Regions from separate parts of the Homo sapiens genome. Here region 2 is linked to region 1. The links come from fine-mapping of genetic effects on gene expression. Tissue or cell type: ovary. Region 1 holds a variant in brackets; the other region holds the start of a gene. All regions are shown on one strand. Distances are between the middles of the regions.

Region 1 (5,337 bases):
TAAAAATCCGATACTATTTACTTACCCCATAATGTTATAATTAAACTGGAAATAACAATATGAACTCATGGTTTAAATATATACATATTTTTCTAACTTGTCTACTGAGAGACTAGTGGCAATGATACTCTGAGAGCAATGATGCCCAGTGGCCAGTTTTTGGTATCTAAATGCCTTCCCCACTAAAAGGAACCTGGGCTCTTTAAAGAAATGGTTTATTCCAAGTATGGGCATGAAGTATGTAGGTAAGTCTAAGACATCTTATGCTAGAAAACAAGTCAAGCTTTGAGGCTTCGTTCAAAAGACTAATGAATTTTTGTCAAGACAATATAAGAGTCAACTTTAAAGGACTCTCTTTGGCTAAAGTTGAGACAAAAGAATATGACTCCAACTAAAACACATGGAATATTTAAAAATCTGTGAGTCTAATCTGATACTTAAAAAAGAGAAAGCGGAGGGGACAAAAAAAGCAGGTAGTGCAGAGTACACCAAGTGTGTATTCTGAAAACTGGTAATTAAAGAGAAAAGCATTTATCTTGCCTTTGTAGTAGGAGCTAAACTTCAAGATAAACAAATAGCCTGGGCTAATGAGGAAACGCTATTTATTTTACAAAAGCATGTCTGTTAATAAATGTAAGTGCATAATATAACTAGAAAATTATGATGTTTGCAACTTTTAATAATTGGGTTAGGCAACAATCATCAGCAGATGCTAAAATCATTAGGACTGACAAATAATTTGTTATTTGTATGGTACCAAAATATCACCAGTTAGCTAAATTGCTTAATAATGGAGGTATATGGTTATCTTTTCTTCTTCTTCTTCTTCTTTTTTTCTTTTAAGAGAGAGACTCGCTCTGTTATACAGGCACATAGGCTGGAGATCAGTGGCACATGATCACAGCTCACTGCAGCCCCCAACTTCCTGGGCTCAAGCGATCCTCCCACCTCAATGTCCCAGGTAGCTGGGATTACAAGCATGTGCCACTACACCAAGCTAATTAAAAACAAACAAACAAAAAAAAAAACATTTTTTGTAGAGACGGAGTCTCACTATATTGCCTAGGCTGGTCTGGGCTCAGGAAATTTTCCTGCCTGGGCCTTCCAAAATGTTGGAATTATAGGCATGAGCCACCATACTTGGTCTGCTTGTCTTTTCCTTAACAGAGTAATCAATTACAAAACATGGAACAACCAGATACTCTTGAAGTGATGCAATATAAAGTATAGAACACTACTTATGAAGTATTCTTGCCAAAAATGTTTAAACCTGAATGTAACTTAGGGTTCTGACCTAACTTTTAGTAATACAAGGGACACAGGAACAAGTAAAATGACACACACACAAAAGTTAGATACATCTTCAAACATTTTTTGGAGAAAAAGAAAACCAAGGGGATTCTATATTAAAAAGATTTATGAGATGTAACATCCAAATGCTTATTCTTTGATCAAAAAATGTAAAAAATGTGACTATAATCAGGGTATTAGGCGATATTAGAAAATTACTGTCATTTTGTTAGGTATAATAAAGTTACTATGGTTAGTTAAAGAAAAAAGCCTTTTTCAAAAGGGTACATTAAATATTTAGGGGAGGAATGTCTGCAATTCAAACATCCCACAAAAATCAGAAGAAGCAATTATGACAAAATGTTAATAAATGTTAACTATTAATTCAGGTGATGAGCATTATTGATACCATCCTATCTTCTGCATATTTGAAATTTTTCATAGTCAGAAAAAGCAAAATAAGAATCAGATGTACCTTAAATCTTTGCAAACACCCAATTTTTTCACAAACTTCAGCCTCCATTGACAACAATTCATTCTTTTGCTTCTCATTTTCTTTTCTAAGTTGTCGCTCCAATTCTACTAAGGTTGTATATTGCCTTATAAGTGATTTTTCATTCACTTGCAAAACAGTAATTTTCCTACTATTTTCTGCAAGTATTTTTTTCATTTCATCCGAATCCATCTGAAGAGCATTGAGCAAATTCTGCACAAAGACACATCCATATTACTTGTTGAATCTAGCTATCCTACTTTGTACAATATTGCATACTAATGTTAAAAATGTTTTACTTACATTATATTCTTTTACTTTTATAGCATCTTGTTGGACTTGATCCTCAAGTTTTCTCTTTTCCTCTTTTATTGTTTTAGATTCTGTTTTCCAGGTCTCCTTTTCACTAAAAACAAAACAAAACAAAAAGACAATACTGTAAACCTAATAAAATGTTTATAAGAAAAGATAACTTCAGATTATGCAAATTTAAAGTTTTCTCAACACAAGAGGTATCATAGCTATTCAGTATCTGAAAACACAAGAAGTTAAACTTTCATTTAAAAAGGGTTTAGCCTAGAATTAAAAATTTTTTAAATAAATGCAAGGCAACAAAGTTATCAAATTATTTTCATTCTTCCCTGATTCACCACTAAATGGGTTATAATATAATTGAAGCTGAATCTTATAAACATTTTATTGAACACAGAAAAAAAGTAGGAAAATAATACCCTATACTAATTCTAGAAATCAAATTCCAACATTCTGACCCCACTCTCAAATTTGGGTGTTAAATGCTTACAAAATAATTTGAATACAAACACATCTTAAGTCTAATTAAAATAGTGACCAAAGTTAATAACAGTATATTATATACTTTAAAATTGCTAAGAGAGTAAATTTTAAGTGTTCTTAGTGCAAAAAAAAAAAAAAATAAGAAGAAGTATGCTGTAATCCCAGCACTTTGGGAGGCCAAGGTGGGCAGATTGCTTGAGGCTAGGA[A/G]TTTTGAGACTAGCGTGGACAATATGGCAAAACTCCGTCTTTACCAAAAATACAAAAATTAGCCAGGCGTGGTGGCACATGCCTGTAATCTCAGCTACTTGGGAGGCTGAGGCAAGAAAATAACTTGGACCCAGGAGGCAGAGGTTGCAGTGAGCCAAGATAGCGCCACTGCACTCCAGCCTGGGTGACAGAGCAAGACTCTGTCTCAAGGAAAAAAAAAAAAAAGTATGCGAGGTAATACATATGTTAAGTAGCTTGATTTAGCCATTCCACAGTATATACATATATAGAACACCATGTTGTATAGCATAGTATATACATATATAGAACACCATGTTGTATAGCATAGTATATACATATATAGAACACCATGTTGTATACCATAAATTCTTGTGAATTTAAAAAGTAATTTAAAACATATTTATATATAAATTATTTTTTTGAAGTTGTGTAAGACACTGTTGTCTACACATGAGCATTCCACAAACATGTGTAATGTTCTTGGCATAAACCCAGTATAGCGGTATCATTCTCTTTGCAACTGAATGGTTCAGACTTGGACATGTGATCCAATTCTAGCAAATGAGATCGGAGTCAATGTCTGCCAGGTATCACCAGAAAAAAATGTTTATTTAAAAATAAAAGCTATGTAGAAAAAAATGCTCCTCTTCTTCAATGGGCACATCATCTTTCTTGAATTCATGCAGCTATTTTACAACCATCATAGGCGATAACAACAACCTTCAAATATGACCTGCCCTACAACTAGCTTTGTGGTTCTGGTTAGGTCAGATAATAATTATTCTTAGTGTTTAAATCACCTTTGATTAGGTATTCTAATTCCTATTAAGGAAATCATTCTATTGATTTAGATGAGATGACAGAAATAAGGAGAAATATGTTAGTTCCCTATAAACATATATGAACAATGATGATTGTGATGATGATGAATGATGCTAACAACAGCTAACATTTACAAACTGTTCATATGTGCCACACACTAGTCCGAGCATTTTCATCTAATAATTCATTTACGTTTTACAATAATCCTATGAAAAGGGTATTACTTACAAAGTAACTTACAGATAAGGAAACTGAGACACAGATAGGTAAGATGACTTGCTCAAGCTCTTACAAAAAGCAAACGTTAAATGACTCAAACCCAGGCAGGATAATCCCAGGCTTAATGTAATCATTAAGCTACACTGTCTCCATAAATAAGTTCCTAACAGTAGTTACCAGAGTAAAAAAAAATACAATTGCAAAGGAAGAAGAAGAAGGGAAGAACAAAACATAAATTATTCTTACGTTACTTTCACAATTAACAAGAATATACTGCAATTATATTTATAGTTTTGCTAATACCTATACCTTAGGTATTCTTTATACAACAAACTTTGTTGATGACGAATTACAGCAAATTTTCTGTTGTAATCTTCAAGAGAATCTTCTAAATTCTTTAACTTTTTTTCTTTATTTTCTAGTTCCTGAAAAGTGGTTTAGAAATAAGAATGCAAAAAAAAACACAATAGAATAAATGCTGAATTTGAAAGTATAAATTCATATTCTGACAACATTATAGGAAAGTTAAAAGTCACCAAATCTGTAAGCAACACAGATCATTTTTCCATGATATTTTGAACACTTTAGTTTAAGGCATAAAAAAAGAGTACTATACAACAGGTAAAGTTATTTTTAGCACACAAATTACCAGATTACAAAGTTTTATTAGATAGAATAGTTATAAACTCGCCTCTAGTCACTCGGCCACATACCCTCTCTTATGAACACATAATTTCATACCCTCACTCAAATTATCCTTTCCAATTATTTCATTTTAAAGATGAAATTGAAATTTAAATAACTTACTCAATATCCAAAAACTCATTAACACTACACTTGGCAATCATTTTTACCAAGTACATATGCTAGGCTTGTTGTCAGGTGCTTTCCATATACATGGATCCAACATTTGAGTTTGGGTCTGTCTGACTCCAAAGGTCTTGCCACGTTTATAGCTCTATACAGCCTTAGGATTGAGAGTCTAAGTACCTGTTTTGCCACTTTGGACAGCTTTTCAGACTCCCAGTTGGTACTCTCTAATCTACTACAAACTTCTGATATATTTCTTATACAAAGATTAAAAATCATGAATTTTATCTCAAAAAATACGACAATGCCATACTACCAATATTTGCTGATAGTGTTCCTATACCTCAGGTAAATAAGAGAAATAATAATGTTAAAATTATACATTTAAAAATAATAATATCACATACAAAGCAATATTCTAATAAGTAGTTAAGGCTGTCCTTAGACAACATAAAATAATAATAAAAATCCCAATATTGAGAAAAAGATGAATTACTGTAATTTCCAAAATAAAAATGAGTACTTAATAATTATAACTCAAGTATACTCACAAATGGATCACCTAGCAGAGAGAAATAGTGGCCCATATAATCAAAAATATATTTTCATTGATTCTGAACATATATTTGTAATTATATTTATAATGTATGTGATGTTATAGATAGTCAAATTTCAAATAA
Region 2 (5,173 bases), 34 kb after region 1:
GTCCTTAGTACTATATAAGGCACATAATAGGCATGTAGAACATATACAGAATAAACAAATAACCATGATTACAATCATCCTTATAATTTTTCCAGCCAACAATAATTTTAAAATTTGAAAACAATTCAAAATAAAATTAATGACAATTACATCCTAGGGAATACAAAAAGACATACCTCCAGTTCATTTTCCAGTTTCATTACTTTAGTTTTTAATTGATTTTCTATTTTTTTAAAAAAAAAGAAAAACGTTTTAATTGATTAGTTACCACAAAACAAACTTTTAAATAAATTTCAATAACAAAATTAATTCTTTTAAAAGAGTCCATCATGATTATAAGGTAACAAAAAGTATTATATGGCAGATCCATAAAATAGGAGTCTAGAAATATTTATTATTAAATGTTATATATTAAAAATAAACTGAATATATATATTTTATAGAATATAATTTAATTTTCTACAGTTTAATGAACAAATGGAATTCATTATTTAATACCATAATAAACTTTTTCCAAGGTGCTTACCAAATTTTGCTTGTTCTTCTCCAGCTTTTTCTACTTCTTCCAAAGCCAGCTCCACTTCTTGAGCTTTCATCTAAACATTAAAAAAAGGTTATTTCAATATGCCTTTATACTGGAATGTAAGCACTGAAAATAAAAATTCTGTTTTATTTGTTATGATCCTTAGTGCCAGCAATGGCTGGCACATGGAGACGTTCAGTAAATATTTGCTGAATAAATAGTTTTTGGTTTTTGTTTTTGTTTTTTTTGCTTTTGAGATAGGGCCTCACTTTGTCACCCAGGCTGGAGTGCAGTGGCACAATCTCAGCTCACTGCAACCTCCTGCCTCCTGGGCTCAAGCAATCTTCCCATCTCAGTCTCCTGAGTAGCTGGGACTACAGGTGCATGCCATCATGCTTGGCGTGCCATCATGCTTGGTGTGCCATCATGCTCGGCAAATTTTTTCGTACAGGCAAGGACTCACTATATTATCCAGGCTAGTCTTGAACTCCCAGGCTCAAGCAATCCTCCTGCCTTGGCCTCCCAAAGTGCTGGGATTACAGACGTGAGCCACCATGCCAGGCAATTTTCTTACTTAAGACTACAATTTCTAGATTTTTAATAGCATGAAACATTTTTGATTCTCCTTTTTACCTCAAGTCCTCAAGTCTTATATCCAGTAATGCAACATCTCCCTTTGTAATGTCTTTCCACTACTTTTTTTCTGTTCCAATTGCTATTATTCTAATCCATAATTTCAGGTTTAAACTCCGCTATAATGTGATGTCTACAAAGCTCCAATTTCCTTCAGTTTGTCCTACATAATATACTCAGTTTTGCCTTCTTAAGGTGTATTTTTGTACCTATCAATTGTGTTTCGAAAACCTTTACTGCCTTCTCAATTGCTGATAGCATAAAATACACCTTTAAGGCCCTCAACAACCTATCTCAAAGTACTTACCCAAGATTTGTTTTCTCTACAGTCTGCTACAAACTTGCTGCACCTTGTTTCCTCAAATATAAAGAATAAACATATTTCCTGTTCTCAGTATTTATTTATGGTAACCAACAGCTCTAGAATTCCCTTACTATCTTACCACTGCATTGCCTTCCACTTATCTAACACTACTCCTCAGTATTGATCCTTTGTGAAGTCTTCTGACATCTCTTAAATCATTTCCCCTCTTAACAAATCCCTATAGCAGTCATTGTCTGCATTTGTCATTTGGACCTCAAGATATATTTCCTTATGTTACTTTTCAACATACTCATTCTATTTCCCCTACACACCCTTTTAGAAACTTTAAGTAGAAACTAGCAATGTTTTATACACTAAAATACTTAATTCACATTTAAATATATTGCATTTTTTAGTGGTGATGTAGATATTACCAGGTATTTTCACAAAGATTACCTTATATAAGAACAGATTTTTATAGTTCCACTAATAGCCAAACCTATAGTTAAAACCTACTACATACAAACCTTCATTAGTGACTGAGTAATTCTGAAAAGGTGTATCACATTTTCTTGCTTTTCACTTTTTAGCTCATTTACTTCCACCTAAGTAAACAGAAAAGCAACTGTTTTATATTTTATAACCTTCAAGCAAAATATAAGAACACTTCCAGATTGTGACAATTATAGTTGTCCCTGAAAAAAATAAATTCATATTTTATTAATAAATTAATCATAAGTTAATGTATATATCTATTATTATTGACCAATTAAGCACCTTGGATAAGGAAATCAATAAATTATCTGCCAGTTCTTCTTGACGGGGCAGGTCATCTGGGTCAACTTTCATTATTTCTTTCCAGTTTATATTAGGTGGCATCTTGAATTCTTTCACTGTGCTCCACCTCTGTAACAAAACAGGTGTATATTAGCATTTTCAAGGTACACAGTATTATTGGTTTTCTAGCACCTTACATTTTTTGCAGATTATTTCATTATAACTTTCTGATGTTAGCAAAACAGACAATTGGGCCACAAAATAGACAAGTGGGCAAAATAGCCTTGATCAAAAATAGCAGTCGGCACAAACTGTCAGAGTGTCCCGGCTAAATAAAATGTGACGGCTTCCTTGCTAACACTAATCTAAGTTAATACTTAAGATTTCTGGATCCCTTCCTCCACACCCCTACCCACAATGCGCGCGAACACCCTAATCCTGGCAAGCGCGAGGGTCTGTGGAAGGCCGACAATCATCCCTGATTTGGAGAAACAGAATTGGGGCTGAAAAAAAACGCAGAAATTAACATTTGGAATGAGTGAAGTTGTGCGGCGGAAACTGGAACCGAAGCAAGGCAGTATTAGGGACCCGAGGCTGGAAGGGCGGGGTAGCTATGCTGTGGCACACGGGCCCTCAGGCTAAAGAACCTGAGCGTGGAGTGACTCGCTAATCCTGCTTACAAGGATCCACCCACCTAGACCAAGCCTGGCAACCAGCGGAGGCCTCTCACTACCGCAACCACCAAGCTGGACCCGGCCGCGGGCCCTGACAGATCCCTATCGCGGTTCCACGCGGACTCTGGGTCCAGCCAAATGGTCCCGAGCAAGCCAAAGCGGCAGCGGCTGCTAGGCGACACCATCCCCAACTCCGCCAAGGCCAGAATAAGATCCCGGATGCCAGGAGAGCCTACAGTTCACGACCGTGGGTGATGCTTTACGTTTAGATTCTCCGCCGGAGTCCCAGAGCTCGGTGTTCAGGATGATGAGAAGGCGTGGAACGAGGACTTCAAATCCCAGAGTGCAGTTCTGCCTGAGGCTTCTGCATGCTGGGAACTGAAGTCCCTGAGAAGAGGAGGTAAGGCGCTCCCGGCATGCAACGCGTAAGACTGCGACGGTACCGGGGCGGCGGGGAAGGACCGAGAGGCGGGAGGAGCAGCGGCTCAGGCGCCTGCAAACTGGTGGCCTGAACGAGGTAGACCATGACTGTGGTTTCAGTGGCGTCACTCGCTGGGCTGCTCTTCCTGAGGTTTTCCTAAGCCATCCCCTGGCGGAACCGCCCCCAGGTGAGGTCGAGCTGTCGGTCAGCATATTGGGAGGAATTGAGGGGAGCAGTCCTGGGTTAGAGAAGCTTCTGCTATTGGGGCCGTAGGGCCTGGTCCCATTCTGAAAAAGTGGGAACACCCTGCCTTCTCTTCAGGCGTTTGCAAGCGGCGTCCAGGGTAGTGCCTTCTGTAAGAAGGAAAAAACAAAAAGTTTTAGCCTTGTTTAGTATCAGAATCTGTCTTGATAGTTAGAGTGAGAGCCGCGCAGCCGTGATCCTCGTTTGGGGGCGAGCGAAGAATTGACAAGAGGTCTCGGCATCCCGACCCCGCCCGCCTTACCTGTAGCACCATTCCTTTCGCGGATCGTGGGGCTTGATGGTTGTGGAGCTAGTATAAAGTCAAGGCTCTAGAGAGGAGAGGTTAGTACTTGTCCGGACCACTGCCGGGGGTGGAGAGAGAAGGGATCCAAGGACTCACCTGTACTATTGTTGCCACTTGCTTGGTTACCTAGGGTGCCCTTCCATGAAAGCGCCTTCTCTGGTGTTTACCACTCTTACTCGTGCAAGTTTTGCTCATCCTGCTCGTCTGCTCACAATCATGCTGGAGTATGATACATCTCTACCTAACTTTCCTAAGAAGCTGTAGACTTAAATCTAAATGACATTTCCAACTATCTGGACCAGTGCTTTGTCTTTTTTTTTTTTTAAACGCTGCTTTAAAAAAAAAATTACTGTACTTGACAGTAAATTTTCCTTTCGAAAATAAGTAATGAGTTTCTTTTTAAACCCCCAATTTGGGTAAAATAAGTAGCTCAGTACAAAATAAAAAGATACTGATTTTGTGAGATGAATTTTAAAGACATTAGTTAGATTTATAGGAATGACAATTTTACTACTTTTCTGAAAGATTATATGCCAAATACTATTCATTATCTTGTTTATTCTTCCTTACAATCCAGTGAAATAGGTGCTTACATTGTCCTCATTTTCCATCTGAGTTAAGAAACTGAGGCTTGGAGAAGCTAAGTAACTTAAATAGTGTGATTGAACACAGATCTCTCTGGCTGGAGGACATATTCTTAACTTCTATACACCTCCTCAGACATTCTGGGAAACCAATATTTGTGAAGTGCTTGTTCCTCAATCTTGCTATTTTTATTAAATGTTATATTTTAATTTTGTAAGTGTTTACTCAATAATTTGAATTAAACATTCTTCATGTTCAGTGTTCTTAATTCATAATTTAACATGGGATGGTGTTTCTGGAAAGGTGTTCTGATCTGGACCCCAGGAGAGGGCTCCTGGATCTCGCCAAGAAAGAATTGGAGGTGCATACACCCCCATTGGAGGTGGTAGACTAAGGATTGTTATAGTTATTTCTTGATTATATGCTAAACAAGGGGTGGGTTATTCATGAGTTTTCTGGGAAGAGGGTAGGCCATTCCTAGATCTGAGTGTTCCTCCCCTTTTTAGACTATATAGAGTAACTTCTTCACATTGCCATGGCATCTGTAAACTGTCATAGCACTGGTGGGAGTGTCTTTTAGGATGCTAATGCATTATAATTAGTGTATAATGAGCAGTGAGAACGAGCAGACGTCCCACCTTTCTCGCCATCTTGGATTTGGTGGGATTTGGCTGGCTTCTTTACTGCATGCTGTTTTATCAGCAAAGTC

What was found. PIP is the estimated chance that this variant, and not a neighbour inherited with it, causes the effect.
Region 2: CEP290 starts here. The variant in region 1 is fine-mapped to the expression of CEP290 in ovary (GTEx, PIP above 0.99). The same link has a PIP of 0.9 or more in ileum.

The regions. Positions count from the first base shown.
Region 1 is chr12:88,104,910-88,110,246 of GRCh38, forward strand. CEP290 (centrosomal protein 290) reads right to left here. Exons shown (of 54, transcript NM_025114.4): 23 at 4,157-4,272; 24 at 2,087-2,189; 25 at 1,766-1,996. Among named protein-coding and RNA genes, the nearest start is that of CEP290, 35 kb to the right of the region's middle. The variant A/G (reference allele first, on the strand shown) is at 2,786.
Region 2 is chr12:88,138,969-88,144,141 of GRCh38, forward strand. CEP290 (centrosomal protein 290) reads right to left here and starts at 3,120. Exons shown (of 54, transcript NM_025114.4): 1 at 2,932-3,120; 2 at 2,238-2,366; 3 at 1,988-2,065; 4 at 527-596; 5 at 177-223. The coding sequence starts at 2,339. It overlaps TMTC3 (transmembrane O-mannosyltransferase targeting cadherins 3), which reads left to right and starts at 3,339. Exons shown (of 14, transcript NM_181783.4): 1 at 3,339-3,519. RefSeq lists enhancers at 2,960-3,399, 3,206-3,709.